Regions from separate parts of the Homo sapiens genome. Here regions 1 and 3 are each linked to region 2. Evidence: fine-mapped expression QTL. A gene starts in region 2. Each other region holds a variant in brackets. All regions are shown on one strand. Distances are from middle to middle. Region 1 overlaps SNRPF-DT (SNRPF divergent transcript). Region 2 holds the start of NTN4 (netrin 4). Region 3 has its middle 81 kb from the start of USP44.

Region 1 (7,774 bases), 61 kb after region 2:
ATATATGTTTGAATTGGTGCAAATTTTTAAAGTCCAAGTCTCTCAAGTCAGTTATTCATTAATTTATTCATTCCAGAAATTTGCCATTATGTGCCAGGGAACTAATTATGTGCTAGTAAATGACTAGTAATAGCAACAAAGGGTTAATGAATAAAATACCTTTTTCTCTAAAAGAGAGTGTAGTTAGTGCTAAAACAGGTGGGGTAGAGCCCATGTGACAGAACAATTAGTTACCTAGGGAAGTCAGAGAAAGCTTCAGATATGAAGTGCCCATTTGAGTGGGGCCATGGAGATTAGATGAGGAGGCATTTTTCAGGCAAAGCAAATGGGGAGGGATTTCTAGGTGGTAAGAACGTCCTGTGTAAGTACGTGGAGTTGTGAGAAAAAGCATGGCCGGCGGTGCAAGGGCCAGCTTTGCGGTTCATGGGACAGAAGGGAAAGAGATGAAGGAGTTTGTTTTAGGCTGCTAGTCATGGGTAACCAACAAAGGTTACCCATATCCAACTAAAATGTCCAGGTCTTCGGTTTGTTTTGAAGGAAAGGAGGTCAGATACCTCTGGCAACAGGGTAATAGATGAGGAAGTAGAATAAGCTTTATTTTTTAAAATTGGATTCAATGGAGACATTTGAGGGGTGAAGGAGGTGGGGGGAGACTGTATGGCACAGGATACTATGGGGAAAATTCCATGAGGTTTTGTTTTGTTTCCTTTAGTGTTTTGAGAACAGTGAAGTCCTATTTGTACTGATTAACTTTGAAGTGCTTATGTGGCAAACAGAACTCTTATTCCAAATTCACCACTGCCACCCGCTGGAACCATGGCAAAAAACAGAAAAGTGTTTAAAGTCAGTATTGAACACTGATCATCTACTTGAGTGGTTTCCAGCCATTTCATCCACAGACTTCTTTTATTATCTACTCGCCCCCACAGATTGAATCTATGATTTACAAAACTCAAAGACATTACTTATTTAAAATTTGTTTCCCATTTTAATAATCAGATACATAAATAAATGCCAGTCAGAGCTTCTGACCCATGATGATCCACCAGTATTCGTATTTTAAGGTGACTTCATTCCAAGCAAAAGCAAAGACACATGAGGTCTTAGTCTATAGTGTCTTTATTAAAATAAATGTACAATTTGTTGGTTATTTTTCTTTGTTTTTGAAAATAGTTTGCAAAGCCACAACACTACCTGCAAACTGATCCAGGTTCAGGGGCCTGTGGGGCCATTGATCTCCAGTGGTCCTCAACCAGGGGCAACTGTGCTCCCCAGGGGACATTTGGCAATGCCTGGAGACATTTTTGGTTGTCAAACCTGGGTGGGGGAGGGACTACTGGCATTTAATGGGTAGAGGCCAAGGATGCTGCTAAGCAACCTATTATGCACAGGACAAGTCACAAAATAAGAATTATTTGTGGCTGGTTGCGGTGGGTCACTCCTGTAATCCCAGCACTTTGGGAAGCCGAGGCAGGCAGATTGCTTGAGCTCAGGAGTTCAAGACCAGCCTGGACAACATGGCGAAAACCTGTCTCTACCAAAAATACAAACAATTAGCTGGGCATGGTGGTGCACACCTGTGGTTCCAGCTACTTGGGAGGCAGAGATGGGGGGATCACTAGAGCCCGGGAGGTGGAGGTTGCAGTGAGCCAAGATTGAGCCATTGCATTTCAGCCTAGGTGAGAGAGAGACCCCGTCTCAAAAAAACGGGGTCTCAAAAAAAGAAAAAAAGAAAAATAAAGAAAAAAGAATTATTTGGTCCAAAATGTCAATAATATCAAGGTTGAAAACTCTGATCTAGCCCAATCCCTACAGTGTATAAAGGAAGAAAATAAGATCCAAGACAATTAAATGACTTTTTCTTTTATTTTAGTAGGCAATACATTCAAAAGTTCCAAAAATAGAACATTAAAAGGGTATGTAGGATTTGAACAGATATTTCTCCAAAGAAGATATACAAATGGCCAATGAGCAAATGAAAAGATTCTCAGCATCATTAGTCATTAGGAAAATGCAAATCAAAACCACAATGAGATACTGCTTTATAGCCACTAGCATGGCTATAATTAAAACAACAACAAAAACGGAAAATAACAAATTGTTGGTGAGAACGTGGAGAAATTGGAACCTTCATACATTGCCGGTGGGAATATAAAATGGCGCAGCTGCTGTGGAAAAGTTTGGCAGTTCCTCAAAAAAAGTTCTGTGTAAAATTATGATATGACCCAGCAATTCCACACCCCTAGGTATATGTCCAAAGAAATTGAAAACAGGTATTCAAACAAATACTTGTACACAAATGCTCATAGCAGCAAAATTCACAGTAGCCAAAAGGTGGAAACAACCCAAATGTCCATTAACAGGTGCAGGGATAAACAAAATGTGGTATATACATACAGTGGAATCATACTCATACATTAAAAGGAATGAAGTACTACTACTACAACAAGCTACAATGTGGGTGAAGCTCAGAGACATTACACTTAGTGAAAGCCAGATATAAAAGGTCACATGTTGTTTCTATTTATATGAAATATCCAAAACAGGTAAATTTATAGAGATAGAAAGCAGACTGAGGGTTGCCATGGGCTAGGAGAGAAGGAAGATAGGGAGGAACTGCTTAATGACTACAGAGTTTTCTTTTAAAGTTGTGAAAATGGGCTGGGCACAGTGGCTCATGCCTGAAATCCCAGCACTCTGGGAGGCCGAGGCAGGCAGATCACTTGGGGTCGGGAGTTCAAGACCAGCCTGGCCAACATGGTGAAACCCCGTCTGTACTAAAAATACAAAAATTAGCTGGGTGTAGTGGCATGTGCCTATAATCCCAGCTACTCAGGAGGCTGAACCAGGAGAATCGCTTGAACCCAGGAGACGGAGGTTAGCAGTGAGCCGAGGCTGCACCACTGCACTCCAAACTGGGTGACAGGGCGAGACTCCATCCCAAAACAAACAAACAAATAAATGAACTTGCAAAAATGTTTTGGAATTATATAGAGGTGGTGGTTGCAATAACATTGTGAATGTACTATATGCCACTCAATTGTATACTTTGAAATGGTTAATATGTGAATTTCATAATTAAAAGTTTTTAAAAAATGCATAGTGAAACATCTCATCATTGTCTGCCCTCAGTGTAGTTCCCACTACACCCATAGGCAACCCGTGTTCTTAGTATCTTAGGAGCCCTCCAGTATACTTATGCACATACACAGAAATGGATAGCTTGTTATCCCCTTCTTTCTCTTTTTATACAGAGGCAGCATATTTTGCAAATTATTCGGTGCCTTGTCTTTCTCAGCAATTTATCATGGAGATCTTTCTG[T/C]GGCCTTGACACTCTTGAACATTGCAGGCCACTTTGTTCCTCAATGTGGTTTGTCTGATATTTCCTGATTACTAGATTCAGGTTATGTGGCTTTGGTAAGAATATCACAGAATGCATCTTTTCTTTGCATCTTATCATGTGGCACCTGATTTTGATTTTCCAGTTGCTAACGATAGTTGTTTGATCACTGGATTGTAATAAGATGGTGTCTACCAGTTACTATAGTGAAGAAGACTGAAAATAGCCAATGTTCGAAGGGATCCTGATTCCTTTAGTGGGAAGCAGTTTCTAGAAACTAAAACCTGAGCATTAAGTATGCTCATTATTATAGGTTGATTCCTTTGATTAGTGCCCTTGTAACAAATTTCCCTTCCTGCCATTGTCCCCTCCCCTGCATTTCTTCTTCATTCCATTCAGGTTCTGACACCGTGTGCCAGGTCATTCTGCATGGACATCCTCCTTGCTTCCTTTAGGCTCTGACACTCCACAGCAGGCCACCCTCTTCCCCGCAGTGTGGACACCCTCTTAACCCCACTCAGGCTCCAACACTCCCTGTCAGGCCACCCTCTGGGGATGCTTCATCCTACTTGGGCTCCAATGGCTGGTGCTGGGCTGCCCCTCGCCATGCGTGATCACCATCCTCACCTCCTCAGGCACCAACTTCCCATGTTTGCCTGCCCTCCTATGTAGATACCTTCCTCCTCCTGCTCAGGCTCTGACACCCCACACTGGCTGCTCTCTTATGTGGATGTTCTCCTCACTCCATTCAGACCACTGTGACTACCCCCATACCCCAGCACAGGTGCATACTTTGCTTACTCCATCTAATGGTTTTAAAACCACATCTTCAGGAAGGATAGAGGAACAACCTTGTACTAACTCCTAACATCCACTACCACACTGGGAGAAAGAAACAATTATCCCTATGTCATGGGAAAATAAGCTTAGTGAGGGCGGGTAACTTACACAAGTTCCCACTAGTAAGTGTTGGGGGCAGGATTCAAACTCAGATTCGAACCTGGCCTCTAGAACCAGCATTATCAACCATTATGTTGTCAATCATATAAAACAATCATATAATGTGCTATTAAATATACTGTTTTTATTATCTTCTGCTGCCGTATATACTGCCTTCTTTTTTTGAGACAGAGTCCCATTCTGTCGCCCAGGCTGGAGTGCAGTGGTGCCATCTCGGCTGACTGCAGCCTCTGCCTCCTGCGTTCAAGTGATCCTTGTGTCTCAGCCTCCTGAGTAGCTGGGCTTACAGGCATGCACTACCATGCTTGGTTAATTTTTGTACTTTTAGTAGAGACGAGGTTTAGTAGAGATGGGGTTTCACCATGTTGGCCAGGCTGGTCTTGAAATCCTGGCCTCAAGTGATCCACCCACCTCGGCCTCCCAAAGTGCTGGGATTACAGGCATGCACCACACTGCCTGGCCTATACTGCTTTTTTAATATAACTCAATATATATGAACAAATTGTATGCATCCACTCATTTTCTGTCTCATCTGTTTCCCAGGTCCTTGATTGCTAGCTCCCTCCAGCTCCCTCTGCACTTAATGGCTAATAAATGTGGTTTTGGGTCTAGACTAATCTCTTATATCTTGAGTTATTAGGCAAACTAATTTTCTGGTCCATAAAGGGATTGGTCTCCCCATAAATATATAAGGTGCTACTTTTACATTGGTTTTACATTACTTAAACCAAGCTTTTGGGGATAATTAGATTTTGATTGAATATAAATGTAGGAGAACAAATATTTATCGAACTGACCAGATATTGTACTGCGTTGCATATATTATCTCATTTAATGTTCTTCATTTAATGTTAACCCTGTGAGAGTCAGGAGAGAACCCCAACTTCAGGTAGCAAGGAGTAAACCTGCTGTCTCTCCACAGGTGCTGAAAGGAGACAATGAGACTATGTGGATCAGAACAAGACAGTTTACTACACACAGCAAACAGAAGCATTGTCTTAGCCATGTCAGCCTCCCTTGCCCCCCAGGTCCCAAGAGGTGAAGTGATAGACCCAGACAGATAGATGTGCACAGTGGATTCCAGCACAGCTGAAGAATCAAAGCCAACAGCCCAGAACTTTTTGAGCAAGCAGCAGTTTAGCAAACAGCAAACAAGTAGTCCAATATTAGTTATTAGCATTAGTTATTGTAGGTCACATTGACCTACTCACGTGCCTACGTACCTCGCTACAGAAACTATTCAGTATCAGGAGGTGGATAAACACCACAAATATTGTATCCTAATAGCAGCCTTATAAGATGGGTATTGAACTGGGCATGGTGGTATACACCCATAATCCCAGCCACTTGGGAGACTGAGACAGGAGGATTGCTTGAGCCCAGGAGTTTGAGACCAGCCTGGGCAACATAGTTACAGCCCACCTCACTAAAAAAAAATTTTTTTAAGATAGGTACTATCATGATCATCCTCTTTATTGATGAGGAGATTGAAGCAGAGATAAGCTGCACATGGCAGAGTCAGGATTTGAACTCAGACAGTATTGGCTCCTACCCACAATACCAGGTTTCCTTTGTTGGGGCTCAGAAAATGATACCCCGAAGCATACTGCTACTTTGCACTAAAGCAGCAGCCTCAGAACCAAGGTCTGACCTTCTCTCTGACCTTCTCCCACCCCCCATCTCTTGCCCCTCCTCCTCTCCTGAAGCACAGGAAGAGACTTTTCTCTGAAGTTTCCTTATCTACCTAAAGATCCAATCCACTGAAGAGGAAAACAATTGTCTTCAATCTTCTTACTGAAATTTCATTAACCAAGGAAAATTAAACTCATATCACAGAGGAAAAGACTGAAAATCAAACACCATACCCACAGCCCAGATGAACTTTGTCCCAGACTATTGTCTGTTCCATGGACCCATTCATCTCTTGTAAAAATCACTTATTACTCTTCTAAAATTGCCTACATCCTGCATTCCCCTCTCCCCTATGCATAAGGGTATATAAACTTCTAGACCTTATTGGGTCTAGCACTACTAGAATTGGGCATTCGCCTTCCTGTGATGCTCCCATGCGCATAAATCAATTACGCTGTGCTTTTTCTCCTTGTTTTGGATAGATAGACCAATTGGTCTATTGTCTATTTATTTCTCAGACTCAAATATCAAACCTCAAGAGGTGAGAGAGGAGGTTCTTATGCTCCTACACCTTTGAGGTATGATTGTCTCTCTATAATGGTACAATGGGCTTTGAACCACCAAAAAGATTTGAATTCTAATCTAGGTTCAGTGTTTGTATGATCCAAAGAAGCTTATATATTTTTTAATCTTAACTTCTTCGGTAGACAGAATACCATATCTCTCAGGTTTGACAAAAAATATATAAAAAGCTTCCACCTGACAGCATTCAAATCTTGGATTTTTCCTCCTTTAAACCTATTCCGATCATACCTGTAGCTGATTCTGGCCATAATCAGAAAAAAATAAGATGTTGGAATTATGAGAATAAACAAAATAAAAAGAAGAGCTCATCAATTTCAAAAGTAACTTCCTAAATGCTATCCCTCTTCATTGACTGCATTAATATTTGTATTTCTATATATTTGTTTATTTGTACTCTACTTAACCACATTTTTGGGAGCGGCAGCATCGTATAAAGGAAAAATCTTAGGCTTTGGAGCCATTTTACCTTCCACATGGCTTTTGACAAAAATACATAATCTCTCTGAAGCTGTCTCCTCATCTCTAAAATGGGGATGATAATAATATCTACCTTGAAGTACTGTGAGGATTTAAATTAGACAAATTACATAATAAAATATCCTAGCATAACATGAAAGGCATTCAATATGTATTGGTCCCCTTCTTCTCAAAGAGGTTTTAAAATTCCACAAGGGCAGACATCATACATTCATTTTACTCACCTCAGTAAATATTTCTAAATCATTTCATAAATTCCTTTTTAGATGGTTGTATACAACTGGAATTTTTGGGTTATAGGATAAATAATGGTAGAACTCACCAAACTGTTCATCCTAATTAACAATTAGGGGTCGTTTTCTTCATATGTGCTCAAAATGTATTCTATCTCATCTTCGAAAAAATACAAAGTCTGTTATTTCCCCTATATTTGAAGCAATTATTCTGATGAATATTCTGTGGAGCCATATGCCAACATGGCAATATATATATTTGCCTTTAAAATAGTAATGCCTTTTAACCTAGGAATTATATTTGTAAGAATTTATGGTAAAGAATCAAAAATACACTTGAAGATTCATGTAAAAGTATGTTCAGTGCAGACTGTTTATAACAGGAGAAAAAATGAAAATAATAGAATAATACATTATCACAGATGCAAAATACAAAGTATAATGAAGACATTAAGCCACATTTTAGAAGAGTATATTCAGTCATATGAGAATTTGCTCAATATAAAGTGAAGAAAACAAGTTACAAAACTGTGTGTAGGCTGGGTGT
Region 2 (5,775 bases):
GCTATGACTCACCTGTAAAAAATTTCAAGGAAAATCATATACTGCCTGTACAAGTATTTTTGACTTGAAACACTTGCCTTGTGATGTTTATTTACAACCTTTCAATGGCTTGCATGTTTTTGCCATAATATGGTTTGAGAAGGAAAAGGTTTTTTTTAAAGCTCATATTTTAAGAGTGCAAGAATTAAAGTAAAATCTTAGGCCTTTAATAGGTCCCTGGGAAAAATATCCAATAATTTTAAATGCCCCTAAACTCCTAAGTCCAGAAAAGATTTGAGCCAGATAAAGAATCCATGGGGCAAAATACTTGGAGTCACTCAAGGGACTATTCAATGATACTAAGGATGCTCCTGTGACTTGGACTGGTTTGGGATGCAGACTGGAAAGCCTGGATTTTGCTGGGTGCCAGCGGCCCTCAGGGAAGAGTGGAAGCCCAAGGGAGGAGATGCGTGCTACAATGTTCTGTAGCCACCAGCGCATCCCTCTAGCCCAGGCGCCCCTTTCTGAAGCAGTCAAGATCCGCACGAGAGACTGGATGTCTGCAGACTCCCTCACATCTCTCCCCCTCACCTACAGGGCTGCGCTTACGCCTAACTGGAAACCAGGTGACCCGCAAGAGGGAGGGAGAGGAGCAGAAGGGGCTCCCGAATACAGAAACCACGAGCCAGGAGCCGGTGGCCTAGGGCAGCCCAAGAAAGCCAGGATGGGAGTGGGAGGGAGAGGGCATCTGCCGACGCCGACGCCGGTTGTCCAGTTACCGAGCCAGGGAGCAGACCCGCCTCCGACCTCCCGCAGAGTCTCTGCCAGGGTACCAATTCCCCAGGGGCGGCCAGCCAGCTCAATGCAAGCCCGGGGTGATCACCACCTATCGTCCAAGCCAGGAGTCCCACTGCGTTCCAGTCACTGCTCCGGGGAGAGGGCGCTCAGCCCTGCCCCAGGTGTCCTTACCTGGTTCTCTAGTACCCAGCACCAGGTCAGGGACACCAGCGATGGGCTTCTACCAGAGACCGGCCCCAGCCCACGCGCGCCCAGGGTCGCTGGGCCACCCCTCCTCATCATTCCTTAGGCCATGAAGTGCCGGGGGATGGCGAGCTGGGTCCTTTGTTCCCTCACCAAGTGGAAAAGCAGTTTTTTAACAAGCCAAACCAAGAAAGAAACCCCGGTCGCAGTATCCCCGGCAGGGCGCACCCAGGATAGCTGGTTATCCAAGCGCATGTGTATCCCAGTTGTAAAAATAAATCAATAGTATTTGAAACTGCGGAGCCCCGGGGAAAGGAGGCGGAACATGGCCACTCATTTCACCCTCGGGAGCAGCGCTCTGCGCTCGCAGCCCTGGCTCCCCTGCACCCCCGAGTCCCGAGATGGGTTAGAGAAGCAGCGAGGGAAGGGGTGGGGGCCCCGCCGCGTCACCACCCACCTGCGGCCACCACCGTGCAGCCCCAGAGCAGCAGCAGCCGCGCGCAGCTCCCCATGGCCGGGAGGAGCCGGGAGCAGCCGGGCCGGGCGGGTGCCGGAGGGAGCCGAGACCTCTGGGCTGCGGGATGAAGCGCCGCCGTCCTCGGGAGGGAACGGGGCCCTGGTTTCTTCCTCCTCCTGGGGCGCCGGGCTCGGTCAGCGGTCGCCGGCAGCTGGGAGCCAGGGGCCGGGACCGCGCGGGGAGGTGGGGTGACCCTCGCGCACCGGCCTGGCGGGTCCCGGGCACCTGGGGGGCGGCGGGAGCCCCGGGACCATAGCCGGCCTGGCTGCGCTGCCCCGCGGAGCGGCCCTGCGGGCTCGTCTGCCGCTAGCCCGGGGCTCGGCGCCCGCAGCCGCCGCTGAACTTTGCGAGACCTTTCACTTCCCGGCCGCCGCCGCCGCCTCCTCCTGGGCGTCCTCCTCCGCTTTTCCCACCTCTTCTGGCTGCCCCGGCTCCGTCCCGTCCTTCTCCACGGGCAGTTCCATGCGATGCATTTTTATTGCACCGACGCCGCGGCGCTCCGGTGCCAGCCCTCCTCCCCTCGCACCTCCACCCCTTCCTCCCGCCCGCCCCCCGCGCTTGACAGCCCGGGCGGCGCAGCCCGCGGGATCGGATCGCCGCTGCCGCTGCCGCCCGGGGGGGGGGTCCCCCGCGCCCCGACCGACGCCCCCGACGCCCGGCTGCCCGCTGGTCCCGGTCGCCTCAGCCTGGCCCCCGGCTGCCCTGGCGCCCCTCCTGGCCCGCGCCCTGCATCTCCCTAGTGACCCCCCTGGTGCCCTGCAGCACCCACAGGCCTCCCCTGGGAAGCAATCTCCCACCTTCTCCCGGAACATTCCTAAGAGCAGTAGACTCCCTCTAGATCAGGTCAGGGCATGCCAAGGGGCTTAAAAAACCGCGAAACAGGCTAGCGCCTACTTCCCACATCCCCCAGCGAAACAAGCCCTCCCTCCTCCTCCAGCCACCCCCTCTCGGGGAGTCCCACGACCCGGGGACGGAACACCCCAACCCAGCCCCGCGTCACCCGCACTGAGAGCGCGCCAACTGCTAAGCGGCGTTCGCCGCTTCTCTGCTGCCTTTTGCGGGGGTAGGGGGATGTCTCGGCTAAACAATCGCTGCCTACATGATCCGAAGGTGTGCCCACTTTGGTGTAAGAGGTATTGCCTAACTCAAACTCAAGGTGCTGAAAGAAAAGGGTCACAGGATTAGCTAGTCGGCAGTGTAAGAACATCGTTGTCCAGAGGCAGGGCAAGGGCACGACAAAGGGAACTCTTCGGTCCTTCCAAGCGTTCTCCCTTTATAGAGTATGCCGTGCTGTGAAACAGTGTTAGGAACTAACTTATGGGGAGCAATTTAGTAGCAACCACACGCAGCTAATTGCAGATAGGATTGCTCAGGGCTGGTGCTTCTGGAAAGAGATTAAATAGCAGCCGAGTCTGAGATTTTTGCAAGTTCTGTGAAAATATAATTCTACTTACACATCCAGGGAAACTGGCAAAAGTTAAGTCGACAGCAATTTTGTATTGCAGTGCTCATTTTGTTCCTTTGAATATTTTCCAGAAAATTAACTACGTTCCAGATACCATTTAGTCGTTGTGTCTGTTACAGATGAGGATAATTCAGAGCTTTGGGATACATGTAGATATTATTTACAATGACCCAGCCAGGAACATATAAGAAGTTTATATCTCCCAGGGGGATCTGGGTTGAGGTCAGCATAATCCATTTGGGCGACATTAAAATTATTCTTCTGGCCAACAGAGGAAAGTAGCAGAAGGTGTGGACAGCAATTCATGTAGCATCACCTGCTTTAGAAAATAAACGCTTTGAGTTCCCAAATACTGGCAATGGTGGGGCTTTCTTCATATCTCCTAATGGAGCCATTGAAACACCTCTCCAATTAATCTTTTTACCAAATAAATGATAGGAAACTATAACAGCCAAAGGTTCTTAGCATAAATGTTAACTTAATAGCCAAGGCAAATTAAACAAAGGGGTGGATGCACATTTATTATTAACTTCTGAGTCTAGTATATTTAGGCAGAACTAATCCATTTCTGTTTTTTAATTAACAAATAAACTTGTATGTATTTATCATGTACAACATGATGTTTTGAAATATGTATACAGCGTGGAATGACTAAATCTAGCCAATGAACATATGCATTTTTGCATATTAACATGCATTTAAGAATACACTCACTGTCTTAGCATTTTTCAAGAGTACAATATATTGCTAAAAATATAGAATGCTTCACAAATTTGTATGCCATTCTCATGCAGAGGCCATGCTAATCTTCTCTGTATTGTTCCAATTTTAGCATATGTGCTGCCAAAGCAATCACAGAACTACTCCATATCTCATTACAAATTTCAAAGCCATTTACTGTCTGCACGAATCCTGCATTGATAATATATTTCTTTGCTGAATAACTGGCTCTTATTTCCTTTAACAAGACAGAAAGCTCTCTAATGGTAGAACAGTCTTTAATATTCAGTTTATACAAAACATTACTATGTTTTTCTGATATTTTTCCTTATTCTTAGCCAAGAACACCTACAATAAGTGTTCATTACATGTTTTTGACTGAGTTGTGTTAAAACTATTGTTATATACTAAGGGGCTAAGGAGACTAAGGACTAAGGAGAAAACCAGTTATATCACAATGATTTCCCATATTCAAAAGGAATCTGCACATTCGACACCAATACTATCTATATGAAAAGCTCAGGAGAGAAAAATAGTCAGCATTCTAATAAACATCATTTGCTTATATAGTCCAGTTTAGTTACAAAGGATATTTTCATTTTGAAGAAGCTATCCAAGAAAAGGTTACCTACATAAGAAAAATCTTGGATAAGTATATTATTGCCTATGATTTTGTTTTTGAAAACATCAGTCATGGATTCAGAATATTTTGTAATTTTATGAATTAGTAGGAAGCTTAGCAAACTTACAGAATTTCAATAACAATTCCCAGAAACCACAAAATTGATAAGTTAAATCTAGAATATTCCTGAGAACTTGAAAGGAAGTTAAAAGGGTCTTTAAAAAGTAAAATAAATGGCATAGCCAGGCGTGGTGGCATATGCCTCTGGTCCCAGCTACTTGGGAGGCTGAGGTGGGAGGATAGCTTGAGCCTGGGAGGTCGAGGCTGCAGTGAGCTGTGTTGGCACCACTGTACTCCAGCCTGGGCAACAGAGTGAGACCTTGTCTCAAAATAAATAAAATAAAATAAATGGCAAAACTCTTTGCACCAAAGACTTTACTCACAGGAGAGCCCTTCAGGACCTCACTTAAATCATTCATGTATTTTTATTAAGTTTGGTTATGACATCTTTCTAGATCACAGCCTATTAGAAGTAACAGATTAGAATGGAGCAGGATGTTATTAAAGACAGGGGATAAACTGAGGCAATCCAGTAATGAGAAGGATGGGAAAACTCTAAAAAGCAGCCATAAGTACAAAAACAAAACCAAAACATCCACAGCAGTCTGAGGCCTTCTAGTGCAGAAACAAAGGACGAAAAAGCTATAAAGGCATCACTCTCCGGTAACTTAGTAGAGTAAGTGAGGTTCCTAGTGGAGCGTAAGACATTCAGAATCAGGAGGGACCCTTGAGCCCAACTTCTCACTCCATCAAAACCCCTTTCCACAAAGCCTCTGTCCAAAGGTCATCCAGTTTCTGTTCTAAAAATCTCCATAAACAAGAGCCTCAAAGGCAATTCTGCTCATTTTTGGCACTGTTGTTCTATTTAAGTGGGATGTTTCTCTTCTTAAAATTCTGTGTTTATAGGTTAGTCATCTGCAACCATACAGAATAAGTCCAATTTCTCTTCTGGTAGGTATTCAATGATTTAAAGTAAAGTTTTAATAATTTTCATCTTAACTATCCTTTTAGTTTAAACACCCATATGACAGGATTCCCACACTTTTCACCATCTTAATCACCTCTTTTCAGATATACCCCAGCTTGTCTTACACTGTGCATGTAGAACTCAACTCCAGGTTTGTCTGATCAACATAGAATAGAACTAACATTTTCCTTAACTTAGCTCTATGGCTTATATTTCTGTAACCTAATGTGATGTTGGCTGGTATATTTGAAGTCAGCTAAAATCCTTTTTTCATATATTGGTATCTTACAGAGTCATCAATAAAAGGTAAAATATATTTTGTTTTACCAGAGGGAAATATTTCCATTAAAATACATTGCATGTAGTAAGCATTCAATAAACATGAATTTGAAGAATAAATCAACAAATTTAAGCTGCTAAGTTTGAAAAATGGTTACAAATTTTAAAAGAAACTTTTAGTTTTC
Region 3 (7,774 bases), 160 kb before region 2:
TCTGGGCACACAGCGCATGGAGCAGCCCTGCTTTCTAATGCCACCACTCACCCTTGGATTCTGTGAACCCCAAATATCTGAGACAGATCTTAGTTAATTTGGAAAGTTAATTTTGCCAATAAATAGGTGACACAGCCTCAGGAGGGCCTGATGACATGTGCCAAAGGTGGTCAGAGGACTATTTGGTTTTATACATTTTAGGAAGTCATGAGATATCAATCAACATATATAAGATGAACATTGGTTTGGTCCAGAAAGGCAGGACAACTCTAAGTGCGGAGGGGGCTTCCAAGTCATAGGTAGATAAGAGACAAATGGTTACATTACTTTGAGTTTCTGATTAGCCTCTCCAAAGGAGGCAATCAGATAGGCATTTATCTCAGTGAACAGAGGGGTGACTTCGAATAGAATGGGAGGCAGTTTTGCCCTAAGCAGTTCCCAGCTTGACTTTTCCCTTTAGCTTAATGATTTTGGGACTCCAAGATTTTCCTTTCACAATTCTTTCCTGGGTGAAGCTAAGAACCCTCCTGGGCTAAACCCTAATTTTGGGGCTTGCCTGTCCTGCATCATTTTCAGCCATGTGATAGGCCCTCCCATTCAACTAGACTCCTGGCTTTACATTTTGATGAGGAATTATTATACTCAGAACACAGTGGGCCTAGTCCTAGGTCACACTCCAATGAATGCCAAAGGAAGGTTGACTACTGAGTCAAAGACAAAATAACAAAACAAGCCGGTTGGAGCTGCCAGTCCTTACTTGGCTGCCTCTTATGTTTCTCTGATTACCAGAGCCAGAATTAGCTATGAGTGGGAGACCACGCTCTTTTTCTTCACCTCCCACTGCTTGTTGATTCACGTGGGCATTTCAAAAGGATTCCCAAGTCCAAAATAATTTGCAATGAATACAAATATACTTCATTTCTAATTTTGGTCTTTTTTTTCAGTTCAGTATATGAAAATTCATTTATTTAGTGAAACCCTACATTAAAGCATCCCAACACAAAGCAGATTCGACTGTAACATAATTGGTGATTGGCTCATCTCATAGGCTTATATGATCAGTGTGTTAACATACAACAGGACTGTACCCTTTTACATGATTGAGTGTTTTGGATCTCACTCACACACAAAAACCCTGCCATAATGCTGTATCAATTAGAGCTGTTCAAATGTGAAGCTGCATTGGAAAATGGGAAACTTTATCACCATATATATGTATATTTTTTGAGACAGAGTTTCGCTCTTTTGCCCAGGCTGGAGTGAAGTGGCATGATCCCAGGTTTTATTAAAGTCTGCAAAGGGATTTTGTACCTGATAGTTAAATAAAGTAATTAAATAAATACACTTTCTTTAACTGTATGGGAACCAATATCTAAATGTGACTTTTGTACTTGCTTTCAGAAGTCACTTCTTGGACAAGATCTTGAAAGTTTAGCACCTTGGTAGTTATTTCCACAAGTGATCCTTTGGCAAAACTTACTTATACCATGGTATGGAATCAAAAGGAGCTATCTTAACCTGGTTTTCTTTTCTCTCATCTCAAAAAACCACTTCTGCTCATTCAGAATTTATCAGTATCCCTGTAATTCTTTTTAGTCTTGTTCTAAGAATTACCTGACAGTATTAATAAAGGCTGACTAGCTTTAGTTATGACTCCAGAGTTGGATTTAGCTAAACCAACCCAATTAGGCCATCAGTGCTAAGGGCAGCATCGGCCTTTCATAGTGACAACCGGCCTATCCCCTTCCTTTCCACCAGGCAGGAAGGAAACACTTTTGTCATTTCTAACCAACAAGGAAACATTTTCTGGTTGCTCCTTAACAGAAAACAGGAAATTCTGTTGGTCATTTTCCCATGGTAATCATCTAAATACCTATCTCTTGATAGATCCCAGATAATTCTAGGACTGGAAGAGAAGCCTCAGATCATATGGTCCGTTTCCATGACAGCCCTTTATACCCATATTAAAAAGTCTAAGTCGGCTCTCAGCCATCTCCTCACCATATTACATGGTATTTTCTCTACGGGAGTTCATAGTATTCACCTCCTCTCTTGGAAACAAAAAAGCATTCCTCTTACTCCTCTCTGAAGCACTGGAGAGTGTCCCCAGTATAGTATTTGATGTCTTTGCATGTAGAGGGACAGTTTTTTCAAAGCAAAAGACAGAGGAGAGGTGATGGGGAAGGAGGAGAGAAGAGAGAGAGGGAGTAGGGGAGGAGCAGGGGAAGGGGCAGAAGAAGAAGAAGAGACTGTTGCAGATAAAAAGAGACTTGAGGTCAAGCGAGGTAGCTCACGCCTGTAATCTAAGCATTTGGGGAGGCCAAGGCGGGTGAATCACCTGAGGTCAGGAGGTTGAGACCAGCCTGGCCAATATGGTGTAACCCTGTCTCTACTAAAAATACAAAAATTAGCCAAGAGTGGTGGCATGTGCCTGTAATCCCAGCTACTCAGGAGACTGAGGCAGGAGGATCGCTTGAACCCAGGATGTGGAGGTTGCAATGAGCTGAGATCGTGCCACTGCACTCCAGCCTGGGCGACAAGAACAAAAAAACTCCGTCTCAAAATAATAAATAATAATAAATAAATAAATAAAGAGAGACTTGACAGCCTTATCAGCTAACTGCAATTGATGGGCCTAGTTTAGATCTTGATTTGAGCAAAATAATTGTAAAAGGATACTTTTGAGATAGTTGAGAAATCTGCACATGGACTAGGTACTAACTAGATGATACTAAGAAATGATTGCTAGTTTTGTTCGACACAATCATTGTATTGGAGTTATGTTAACAAAAACTTCTTTTCTGTTAGGAATACAAACTGAAGGATTTATAGTTGAAATGATAATATATCTGGTATTTGCTTTAAAATATTCCAGAAAAACAAGATAAAATAAGATTGGATAAATGCTAATTACTGAAACTATGTACAATGAACTAAGATTCATTACTTGCTTTACAATTATTTGTATATACTTAAAAATTTCCTAGGATACAATTTTCCGGGTTGTTTTTTAAGAGCAAGGAAGAGCACATCTTTCTTTCATTTTTTCCCCACTGTTAATTTTTTGTTGTGATTATTCTAGTGGCAGAGAAGACATATTATTCAATCCAGGTCTTGCCTGTATTATTTATTTATTTATTTATTTAGACAGAGTCTCCCTCCGTCACCCAAGCTGGAGGGTAGTGGTGCGATCTCGGCTCACTGCAACCTCCACCTCCCAGGTTCAAGCAATTCTGTGTCTCAGCCTCCTGAGTAGCTACGACTACAGGTGTGTACCACCATGCCTGGCTAATTTTTGCCTGCATTATTTTTAATAATGATAAAGTAACTCAATAGTTGATCACTAAATCGAATAACTACAAGGCTGGTTTTTTTATTTTTTATTTTTTAGTGCTAACTACTATATTTCATGTGCTTTATATTTAATTAATAAGTATAGAGGAGGTTATTTTTTCCTTTTGCAGTTGAGGAAACTGAGGCTCAGAGAGGCTACAGTAACAACTGCAAGGTTAATAGAGCCAGCAGATGATGAAGGCTGAGATTTGGAAACAGATCTAGTTCCCAAACCTGTGCTTTTTGCACTATCATCTTACCTCTCATTCTGTTTGTGGTTTGGGGCCTTGCTAACTGGTGACAGCCAAGTTAGCTGGCAACTAAGAGTGAGTTTCTTAAAATGTAAATCAGACTATATCACTTTGCTACAGAAAACCTTCCAAAGACTTCCAGACTGAGTAAAATCCCAATTATTTTCAGAAGCCATAGGGCTCTTCCTGATCCCCTCCATCCCTGCCACCCCATGCCCCTCATCTCTTTCAACTACCACTTTGCTCGCTCTGCTGCAGCCTGGCGCAATATTCTAAGAACTTTTCCTTAACTGTCTAAGCTTCCTGCTTAGGCCCTTCCCTTGATATTCCCTCTGCCTGAAATGCTCTTTCCCAGATACCACATGGGTCACTTTCTTCCCTCTCCCCTAATTTCCTTCAGTCTTTGCTCAAATGTATTCTTCTTCTTTTCAAATACATATAATTTTAAATTTTATTTATTTATTTATTTTTGAGACAGGGTCTCACTCTGTAGCCCAGGCTGGACTGCAGTGGCACAATCTTGGCTCACTGCAGCCTCCGCCTCCCAGCCCCAAATGATCCTCCTGCTGCTCTGTCTTCAGCCTTCCAAGTAACTAGGACCATGGACGTACACCATCCCACCCAGTTATTTTTTATTTCTATTTTTTGTAAAGACAGAGTCTTGCTGTGTTGCCCAGGCTGGTCTCAAACTTCTGGCCTCAAACGATCATCCCACCTTGGCCTCCCACAGTGCTGGAATTACAGGCATGAGCCACTGCCCCCTGCCCTTCCTTATCTGTGTTCATCGCACTCATCACTACCTGACATTATTATGTACTTATTTATTTATCTATTACCCCTGAGTAGAGTGTAAACTCGGTGAGGACAGCAGTTTTTTCCATTCACTGCTGTATCCCTAGCACCTAGACCAGTGCCTGGCACACAGTAGCTGCCCAGTAGTACTTGCTGAATCACTGAATGACTCTCAACCTCATGAGTGCGGTGCTGTGAGTCACCGGGTTACTACATCATGCCCAGACTGGGCAACCTGGGGGCGCTGAAATGGAATCACCGGTAAAGATCTGCAGCTTCCTCTGTGATGTGGGTGTGGTGGGAAGATTTGCATTCTGAATCCATCATTTCCTTGCTGCCGGACTGTGAGCAAGTTTCTCAACTCTCTGTAGTCTTCGTTGTGTCATATGTAAAATGGAGATAATAATTATTAGATAATTACATAATTATCAGATAATTATGTAGAATACTGAAAAAGTTATC[C/T]AGTTCAAACCTCCTTTTTATGGTAAATCAGAAGTTCCCCCTCAGCTCCATAAACTTCATTTGCTTTCACAATCCCAGACATCTGATTAGGCAGCCAAGAGCTCTGAGAGGCCTTTGGCCGGAAACTAAGGATTTATGAGAGCCAATGTTCTCTGTCTCTCCTGTTTGAGCATGTAGATGACATGGAATAACCTCTCTGATGTATTGAATTCGTTTCTCCAGTGTCGTTTATGCTGCCAGATGATCACTTCCCAGTTTGATAAAAATCACTTCATAATGGGGATTAGATGGTACCAAAATGACAGTGGTCTCTGCTGGATCTGACAAATTCTCTCTCTCTCTTTTTTTAACCCCAAATCTCTAGTATGCCAAAAGTTTGCACAAAGGCTTATTGTTGTTATAATTGTCTAGGACTTAATAAATTAGCTATTGTCCTGAGATAACCTCAAAACTCCTGGCTAGGAGGTTAAAAACGATTTTTAAGGGAGCATAAATATGGACACACTGGTAAAAAAGTTTTTCATCCCGTGTAGCATTTTTTTTAGGTTTGAGTGGAAAGTGGTGTGTGACCACAGGAATGTACATTAACAAAAGCAGTAAGCTAATTAAATAACACACAAATGTTGTATTGTCTGGGTATTAATTCTTCAAGGTCATGTCTTAGTTTATAATGGCAAAGGGAATTTATTAAGGGAGAATTATTTGACAGGAATCTTTTTGTTATTATAAGTTACATGCAGGTTAAGATAATCAACAATATTTTTTCTATAAGAACCATAAACAAGAGAAATCCTGCAACATATACTTCTTGCTTATTACATTATGGTGTTTAGCTTACAGGAACTTGGGAGGAGATAAGAAAAAAGAAGAGAAGAGGAGAGGAGGCAAACACTCATTGGGCGTTGTATTCGTCTGTTTTCATGCTGCTGATAAAGACATACCCAAGACTGGGTAATTTATAAAAGAGGTTTAATGGACTCACAGTTCCATGTGGCTGGGGAGGCCTCGCAATCATGGCAGAACGTGAATGGCACGTCTTACATGGCAGCAGGCAAGTAAAGAATAAGAACCGAGCAAAAGGGGTGTCCCCTTATAAAACCATCAGATCTTGTGAGACTTATTCACTACCATGAGAACAGTATGGGGGAAACCGCCCCCATGATTCAATTATCTCCCACCAGGTCCCTCTTACAACACGTGGGAATTATGGGAGCTACAATTCAAGATGAGATTTGGGTTGGGACACAGCCAAACCATATCAGATGTTAAACTGGAGGTTAATGTTCTAGTCAGTTGGCTATAGCGAGAGAGACTGAGAGTTGCCCTAGTTTCTGAGGTTTAATACCTAACAGAGCAGGAAGCAAATGAGCACTGAGCCATGTGTGCACCTTTTTCCTGCCATCCTTAAACAAACATAGCTGCAGTCCAAGGGTGCAAAGGTGGGTTTGGCACTGGAGCTGGGTTTCCTGGTGACTTTACTCTCTGTCTTGGCATTTGGTCTGTGTTTATAGTCAAAGCAACAGACATGAGGTAATGAAGCAGAGAAGGGAATCACAGAATAATGACCATAACATAAAGGCACTGTTTACTCTGAACCTTTTGAAGGATGGAGGAGGATGTGAGAGTCAGCTGCATTGCATCTGCCTTGGGGTCATCTGCGGCCTAGACTTGCTCTATTCTGTGTCCATGATCACCCAGTATTACACCACAGCTATTGGAGGTCAAGGGGGCTGTGAAAAGCATGTGATGTAATCACCCTTCCAGGGATTCCTGTTGAGACTAGTGATGATAGCTGAGTGCCAGGAACTCCTTGGTAGTGGGCATAAAAAGGTGCTTAATAAATAGTTGAGTAACTTGACTCTTACGCAGCCTATAGTCATGGTCTCCATTCCTTTAAAAATATAACCCAGGGTATGGTAGGGCTACACCTGGGGAACTGAGAGACTGGGGACTAGTGTTACTAATGCATCCTTGTTTCATCTGGAGGTGACAGTAGGGATAGGATTCATTTAGGAAAGGCAAATAACACACTGAAGGACATGAGGCTACAAGAGAGACAGTGGGCCATATCCCACCTCAGGGACCCAAAGGACACAGTCTAAATGGCAGCTTCAAGTGTGACAATTTGAGATGGAGTTTTGCTCTTGTTGCCCAGGCTGGAGTGCAATGGCGTGATCTCGGCTTACTGCAACCTCCGCCTCCTGGGTTCAAGCGATTCTCCTGCCTCAGCCTCCTGAGTTGTTGGGATTACAGGCCCCTGCCACCATGCCCGGCTAATTTTGTATTTTTAGTAGAGATGGGGTTTCTCCATGTTGGTCAGGCTGGTCTCAAACTCCCAACCTCAGGTGATCTGCCCGCCTCAGCCTCCCAAAGTGCTGGGATTACATGAGCCACCGTGCCCGGCCTCCTCTACTAATGTTTTAGGGACTTACACAAGTTTAGTTCAAAAAGACTTTTTGGAAAGAGCTATGAAATATAATCTATTGCAGCAGTATGGAGACTCAGTGGAGAAACGGCTATGAGCTACCCTTTGACGAAGGTATTGCAGAGCACCTCTAAGAAGTAACTTTTTTTTTTAGAAAAAACTTCTGTTTTAGGTTCAGGGATACTCGTGCAGGTTTGTTATATAGGTAAACTTGTGTCACAGGGTTTGCTGTACAGGTTATTTCATCACCCAGGTACTAAGCCTAGCACCCAGCAGTTATTTTCCACTCCTCTCCCTCCTCCCCTCCTCCACCCTCAAAGGAGAACCCAGTGTCTGCTGTTCCCTTCTTTGTGTTTATGATTTCTCATCATTTAGCTCCCACTTATAAGTGAGAGCATGTGGTATTTGGTTTTCTGTTCCTGTGTTAGTTTGCTAAGGATAATGGCTTCCAGCTCCATCCATGTTCCTGCAAAAGACATGATCTGGTTCTTTTTTATGGCTGTGTAGTATT

The links. PIP is the estimated chance that this variant, and not a neighbour inherited with it, causes the effect. A credible set is the group of variants that fine-mapping cannot tell apart.
Region 1: its variant is the best candidate, but not a certain one, in a credible set for the expression of NTN4 in whole blood (INTERVAL, PIP 0.78).
Region 3: its variant is the best candidate, but not a certain one, in a credible set for the expression of NTN4 in breast (GTEx, PIP 0.77).

What each region holds. Positions count from the first base shown.
Region 1 is chr12:95,848,426-95,856,199 of GRCh38, forward strand. The region is part of intron 1 of SNRPF-DT (SNRPF divergent transcript); the gene reads right to left. Among named protein-coding and RNA genes, the nearest start is that of SNRPF-DT, 6.5 kb to the right of the region's middle. RefSeq lists enhancers at 1,666-1,810, 2,589-2,733, 7,713-7,774 and cis regulatory regions at 1,738, 2,661. The variant T/C (reference allele first, on the strand shown) is at 3,323.
Region 2 is chr12:95,788,838-95,794,612 of GRCh38, forward strand. NTN4 (netrin 4) reads right to left here and starts at 1,927. Exons shown (of 10, transcript NM_021229.4): 1 at 1,418-1,927. The coding sequence starts at 1,472. It also overlaps the pseudogene RNU6-247P.
Region 3 is chr12:95,628,853-95,636,626 of GRCh38, forward strand. No RefSeq gene overlaps it. Among named protein-coding and RNA genes, the nearest start is that of USP44, 81 kb to the left of the region's middle. RefSeq lists an enhancer at 4,107-5,306. The variant C/T (reference allele first, on the strand shown) is at 4,839.